Regions from separate parts of the Homo sapiens genome. Here region 2 is linked to region 1. Evidence: fine-mapped expression QTL. A gene starts in region 1. The other region holds a variant in brackets. All regions are shown on one strand. Distances are from middle to middle.

Region 1 (2,909 bases):
TGTTCTCAGAGCAAAAGGAAAGTCGTCAGTGAACCGCACTCAGTTTGTCTACTATCGCTCTTCCCCACTTTTTCTCAAAAATCAAAATTGTTTGCAGAACGGGTGGTGCGACCAGAAGTGATCTCCTGGGACACTGAGGCAGTGCGCCCGGCGTGGAGGGCGAAGGGGTAGGGGTTCCTGCCAGCGACGCTGGAGTTCCAGCTTCTTCAGGCGGTTGGGGAAATGGAGGGATAGGAAGAGGCGAAGGGAACTCAGTTAACTTCCAACAGGGGGTGGGGGGAAGTAAAGAAAAAAAGTGGCAGCGCACTGAACACCTACCTTCATGGCGAGGGGGAGGGGGCGCGGGGAGGAAGTCGCCACCCGAGCGAGCGCAGCCGAGGAATCCGAGCGGAGCGACCGGGTTAAGCCTGGGGGGACGGTCAGGAGCAGGGCTGCGGAGTCCTCCGGCGCGCGTCCGGCGGGCGCAGTGAACCGGAGCTGAAGCGGGCACTGGCGCCCGGGCCTGGACTCCCGAGTTGGGGCAGAGCTGGGATGCGCCCAGGAATGGAGGGGGCGCGGACGCGCGCGAGCCGGCAGCAAGGGCAGGGCCTGGTCGGGGCGCAACTAGGGAGCCGCCGGTCCGGCGAGGGCGCGCAGGCAACTGTTCCACGGAGAGGCGCTCCGTTTCCAACGTCCATCAGCGACGGCGGTAATTAGGGCTTTCCAACCCCAAATGTGGGCGTGATTGTGCAAAAGACCTTACGACAAATAATAATAAAAAGAAATTCTTCACAAGAGGGTGAAAAAAATGTACCACTACTCAACTGTGGCCCGGGGCGGGGGAAGGGGGGCGATCTGTGCGCCCAGGTGCCCCCAGTTCATTCACACCACAGATTCTGCAAACTCTTGGCGGCTCACGCCTCCTGATCTCCAGCTCCTCCTCTCTGGGTCTGTAGCCGAAACGTCTGCTTCCAGACGCTGATCCTGCAGCCGCGAGTTAGTGTGGACGTCTCTGTACACACACAGACACACACCCCAACACACACACCCCCGCTGCAGCTTTGGGGCCACAGAACAATCAGGCGCGCATGGCTTTTTCTCCGGGAGATGCCGCTGAAAACGCACAAGTCGCCATCTGAGCTGCAAGAGTCAGCCCCAAATTGTGTCCTTTCATTTTAGGGTTCGGCAAAAACGGGGAGCAAAATAGGTGAAAGTCGCCCCGGAACTTATTGCTGTGCGGTGAGCTGGAGGGGTGCGACTAACCCAGGGGAGACGCGGGCTCCCCCCCCCCACCACGTATCCCGTTCTTTCTCTCTTCGGGTTGATCTCTCTTTTCCCCGTTTTTCCAGGGCGAAGGGCGAAGAGCAGCGAGTGCACCGCGGGCGCGAGGCTGGGGAAGGGCGAGAGCTCGGAGCTCCGCGGCGGCGACTCAGCTCCGGCGGTCCATGGCCGGCGAAGCTGCCCACCTCCTCGTTTGGCGCCCGGGTCCGAGGGGCGGGAGAGCGGGCCGGCGGGAGGCGGGCGGTCCCGGGCACAACGGCGGCGGCGGAAGGGCTCGCTGGGCAGCTGCCGCACGGACCCCGGCTCTGGGCGGCGGAGGCGGCTCCGTGGAGCTCGCAGCAGATTTCCACGCGATCCTGTGCCCCGCAAACAGACTGACCGACCGCGGGGACGCGTCCCCCCCTCCCACCCCCCAGCCCTTCTGGCCAACTGCCTTACTCTCTCCCTCCCTCTCTCCAGACTCCTCTTTCCCCTGGTGTTCTCAGAAGGAAGAAAAAAAAAAAAAGAAAGAAAGAAAGAAAGAAAAAAGTTCTTTAAAGTTTCAGAACTAGGGGCGGCTGGAAAGAGAGAGGGAAGGGGGGGGAAGAAAGAAAAAACTCAACTTTGCTATGCGCATGCGTGGTGAGGCCGGCCTATGACAAACTCTGCAGGATTTTAAAGCCGTACTACGGGCTGGGGTGCCGGGAGGCGGGGTACACTCTCCTTGTCTCCCCTTCTCTAAGTTCCCCATCCCCCGCGGCATCTGCTGAAAGAGAGAGGTCCACTCCGCAGCCGCTGCCTGCCTGCCGCCTGGTTGTCTGCGCTCCTTCCAGAGCCACCGACCGGCGGGAGGCTGAACCCCAACTTCCCCGCCTGGACCCCTTGGCTCGCCCGCGTATCCCAGACCGCTCCCACTGGGGCTCCACGGAGACTGCTGCCTTGACATGGAACCTCATGGGGGACCTCCTCATTCTTACCTCTGGGGGAGGATACTTAAGCACTGGGGCTGATGGATAGGGTTAGGCGCTCACCTCCTGCAAAGTCCCCAGAGTAGTAGGGACTTGGGTAGTGGGATGCATGATTGCTCATCTGGCTCCGGCCCAGAGCATGAGGCGCGATGCGTGGTCCTGCCACGGAGATCTTGGCGGGTGCCCTCAGGTGAGGAGATTGCGAAGTTTGGCAAAACCGGGTTCCGGGCACCGGAATTTCTAGACGCTTCCAGATGCCCGTGGTTTTGGGGACTCCGGAGGGGCAGGGTTGGTGGATTTGTGTCCGCTACCTCCAGCACGCCGAGGGCCCCACCCCACAAACAGTGCCTCACACTGGAGCGTAATAGTTATTTTCCGCCGTCTGCATTCTCCAGCTGTCAAAGGTGAAGACACACACACGCGCGCACACACACACACACACACACACACACACACTATTCAATTTTCTCCGTCCATTGGCATGCACTTGACCTTAAGGCGAAAAATCCGTGGCCTAGGTGTTTTGGTGTGGTGGCTGTTTTGTTTTGTTCCTCCAGTCCTCCCCCACCTCCACCCCCACACCCCAGAGGGCGCAGGCCCAGGCTCCAGCGATGCCGTTCCACCCTCCACAGCCCCTTCCCATTCCTTAATTTTCCTAGCCGACTGGACCCTTCCCCAGCCCTGGCCTCCTTCCTGGCGCGC
Region 2 (2,909 bases), 130 kb after region 1:
AAAGCATACTGGGAAGTACTGTTCTACACTTTGTATTAAGAGTTAAAAAATAAAATACCCAGAGCCTGTGTAAATCACAGACAAAGTTGACAAATTTCATGGCTTAGTCATGGTTAACATATCAGATTTCATGGCTTGACAGAGATTAACAAGAAAATCATATTAGAATTACAACTATTAGTAGATTCTTAGATATTTGATAGAGAAACTCCAAGCTCTCCAAACGCCATTGCCCACTGCACAGCCCTCTTGTCCTTCCTCCTGTGGATAGAGCCTCCATGAATCCAGGGAGAGCAAATGGGATCTTCCATTGTTGGTCACAATCACCTCACCTCCTGACTATGGCAGGAGTGAGCCAGTGCCTAGTGGGCCCCAGGGAAAGGTCTTAGCATCCGCGAAATAAAGTAAGGTTTAATATTTATAGCCTAATTCATAAAACTGTAAGGAGAAAAAAAATACCTCATTTGTACATAACACAGGTATTTTACCCAATATTACATGCACTAAGGAGAGGAATGAATGATCATTGTTGGAACTATGATATTTTCGGTGAAAATTAAGTTTCCATGTCTTTACGAGGAAGCAATTCAGCAGAGGCCTTGTTGTTAAAAGTGGCATGCGAGCAGGAACTTCAAAAGACCTGCTGACTGCCTGCCGAGCCATTTGGCCGGAGGGCTCTGCATATCCTCTTTCGGGTAAGAGGCAGCTTACTTGTCAACTTTGCATAAAAGACAGCCAATTTGTCAGCCATTTGCTTTAATTTTGTTTCTGAGTCTTCCAACGACAAACTCCATATACCTTCTGGTCTTTAATATCATATATCTGACTGAGGGATGGAAATTCACTCTAGTGTCTCAGGCTGGTTTCCTTCCCAGGCCATCCTCCTGGGTCTTATAGGATGTCCTTAATCAGAACCACATTACTCAGCTAGAGGAAGTCCTTGTGCAGACGCTGGCAAGACACTATGGCAAAAGAGTTTCACAACATGAAAGGTCAGATTGAGAATAAAAGCTGCAGTTATCTGTTGTGTTTTCTTTAGTTGAGAAAATAAAGGCAGGGTGCCTAACTCCTGAGGAACCAAGATTTGGATAAGTAGCAGCCACTTAGGAAAGGAGTTCCATTGGCCGCTGAGTACAATGGCCAGTTGTGGAAATGGAAAGTCCTTAAATTCCAAGTATTCTGGACCTGAGCAAGGATTTTCTCATTTTATACAGATACGTTTTTATATTTCAGTAACACCCTAGACTGGTAAAACAAAAATAGCTACATCTTGTCAAAAAATATAATTGTCACTGGACTGTGTAAATATACACACATATATATATATACACTACATATATGTGTGTTAGATATACACATATACATAATATATATTTTACATATATGTGTTAGACAAATAAAGCACATTTTAATCGTAAAAGCTACCAGTTATTGTGCTTTTTTTTTTTTTTAAGTGCCAGGCACTATGTTAAGCACTTTCC[A/G]TGCATTATTTAGTCTCTCAACAAACTAGCATGGTAGGGACTAGCTTTGTCCCTATTTTACAAATAGAAAAAACTTGAGATTAGAGAGGAAATTCAAGGCACACAGTTAGACACAGAGCCAGAAGTGGAACCCAGGAGTGCCTGACCCCCGAGCCCAGCAAATTGAACCCTAGCAATTCTCACTTGTTCCATTAAGATGAGTGCCCAAGCTGACTGTGAAAAACAGGGGAGGAGGTGAAGTGATGAGCCATTTCACTTCACTAACACATAGGTGTGAAGGAGTTAGGCGTTACTCCAACCCTGTATCTTCATCCCAGGGAGGCAGCCTGCAGGCTTTGCCGATGGAAGGCAGGGTGTGAGAAAAGGAAGAAGTGATTGCAAAAACCCAAGACCCACCTCCTTTACAAATTTTGCCCAAGATCAGCCTGGCTGGGGAGACTCTGAGAACTCAGAGGGACCAGAGGACTTAATGGAAATCTGTCCCTCACCCAGTTTCAAACTGATAGCCTTCCCTTCTCATGCAAGGGGCTTGCCCTAGAGATTTGGGGCAAGAAATATTTCCAGTGCGCCTCTACCTTAACTCACACCACAGGGGCAGCTAACAATTACAGAAGGAATGAACTTTTTCATCAAATGTCCTTCCATAAAACCATTTCCCAGGAAATGGAACACAGCATGAAGCAAGCCGACTGCAATTTTCCACCAACAATGAGCATCGTGGGGCACAGGTACTATATTTAAACAATTTTCCTCCAGCGTTTTGGCAAGGCTGTCTCTCAAGGAGACTTACCAAGTTGGGCTGAGGTCTCATTCCCCTCCGGCCAGCAGGATCAGAATGTTTAATATGGCCCTGTCTCTTCAACACCCATGTGTAAACCACCAATAAACAAGCCAGGAAAGACCTGCAGGCCTAATTGCCTTTTAACTCTGCCAAGATGATAAACTCCCAGAGCAAAGAAGGAAAGACTTCCAGGGATTTAACAAGTTTATCTGCCTGCCACTTGAACATTTTCTGTCTGCCTACACTTCAGTGAATTCACCAATAAAAGGATAAAAGGGCCCAGAATGTCAGACCCCTCAAATGACCAAGAAGTTCCACATTCAAAACGTATGACCAGCAAAAATTAACCAGTTAATTGAGCTTCATTTTAGGTGTTTTTAAGATCTGGAGCAAGGGAAGTGGGGCCACTTGACTCTTTCTAGCACTGGCCATTTCTCTTTTATTGACCAAGGCCTAGAAATCTTTACTTACAATAAAGAAAATTGTTTTCACAAGGAAACTGGGATAGGCAACCCATTCTGAAACCTCTAAAATTTTAGATAGAGCATTATACTGACAGGAGAGAAACTATACAAATCTCGGTGGTGGGAGAAATGGAGTATATCATATGGGCAGTCATAAGATTGGTGTTTACTTCTGTAAAGATA

Direction of the effects. Positions count from the first base shown, and alleles are read on the strand shown. Sizes are in standard deviations (SD) of each study's normalised expression.
For the expression in monocytes after R848 of the gene that starts at base 957 in region 1, A is the low allele of the variant in region 2 and G is the other (large effect, 0.95 SD a copy in Quach 2016).

What was found.
Region 2: its variant is fine-mapped to the expression of WNT5A-AS1 in monocytes after R848 (Quach 2016, PIP 0.90).

Annotation. Positions count from the first base shown.
Region 1 is chr3:55,486,662-55,489,570 of GRCh38, forward strand. It overlaps WNT5A-AS1 (WNT5A antisense RNA 1), which reads left to right and starts at 957. Exons shown (of 2, transcript NR_046656.1): 1 at 957-1,218; 2 at 1,329-1,647. WNT5A (Wnt family member 5A) reads right to left here and starts at 645. Exons shown (of 5, transcript NM_003392.7): 1 at 319-645. The coding sequence starts at 324. RefSeq lists enhancers at 2,269-2,779, 2,780-2,909.
Region 2 is chr3:55,615,195-55,618,103 of GRCh38, forward strand. All of the region lies in intron 17 of ERC2 (ELKS/RAB6-interacting/CAST family member 2), which reads right to left. Among named protein-coding and RNA genes, the nearest start is that of ERC2-AS1, 9.0 kb to the left of the region's middle. RefSeq lists enhancers at 1-599, 600-1,374. The variant A/G (reference allele first, on the strand shown) is at 1,482.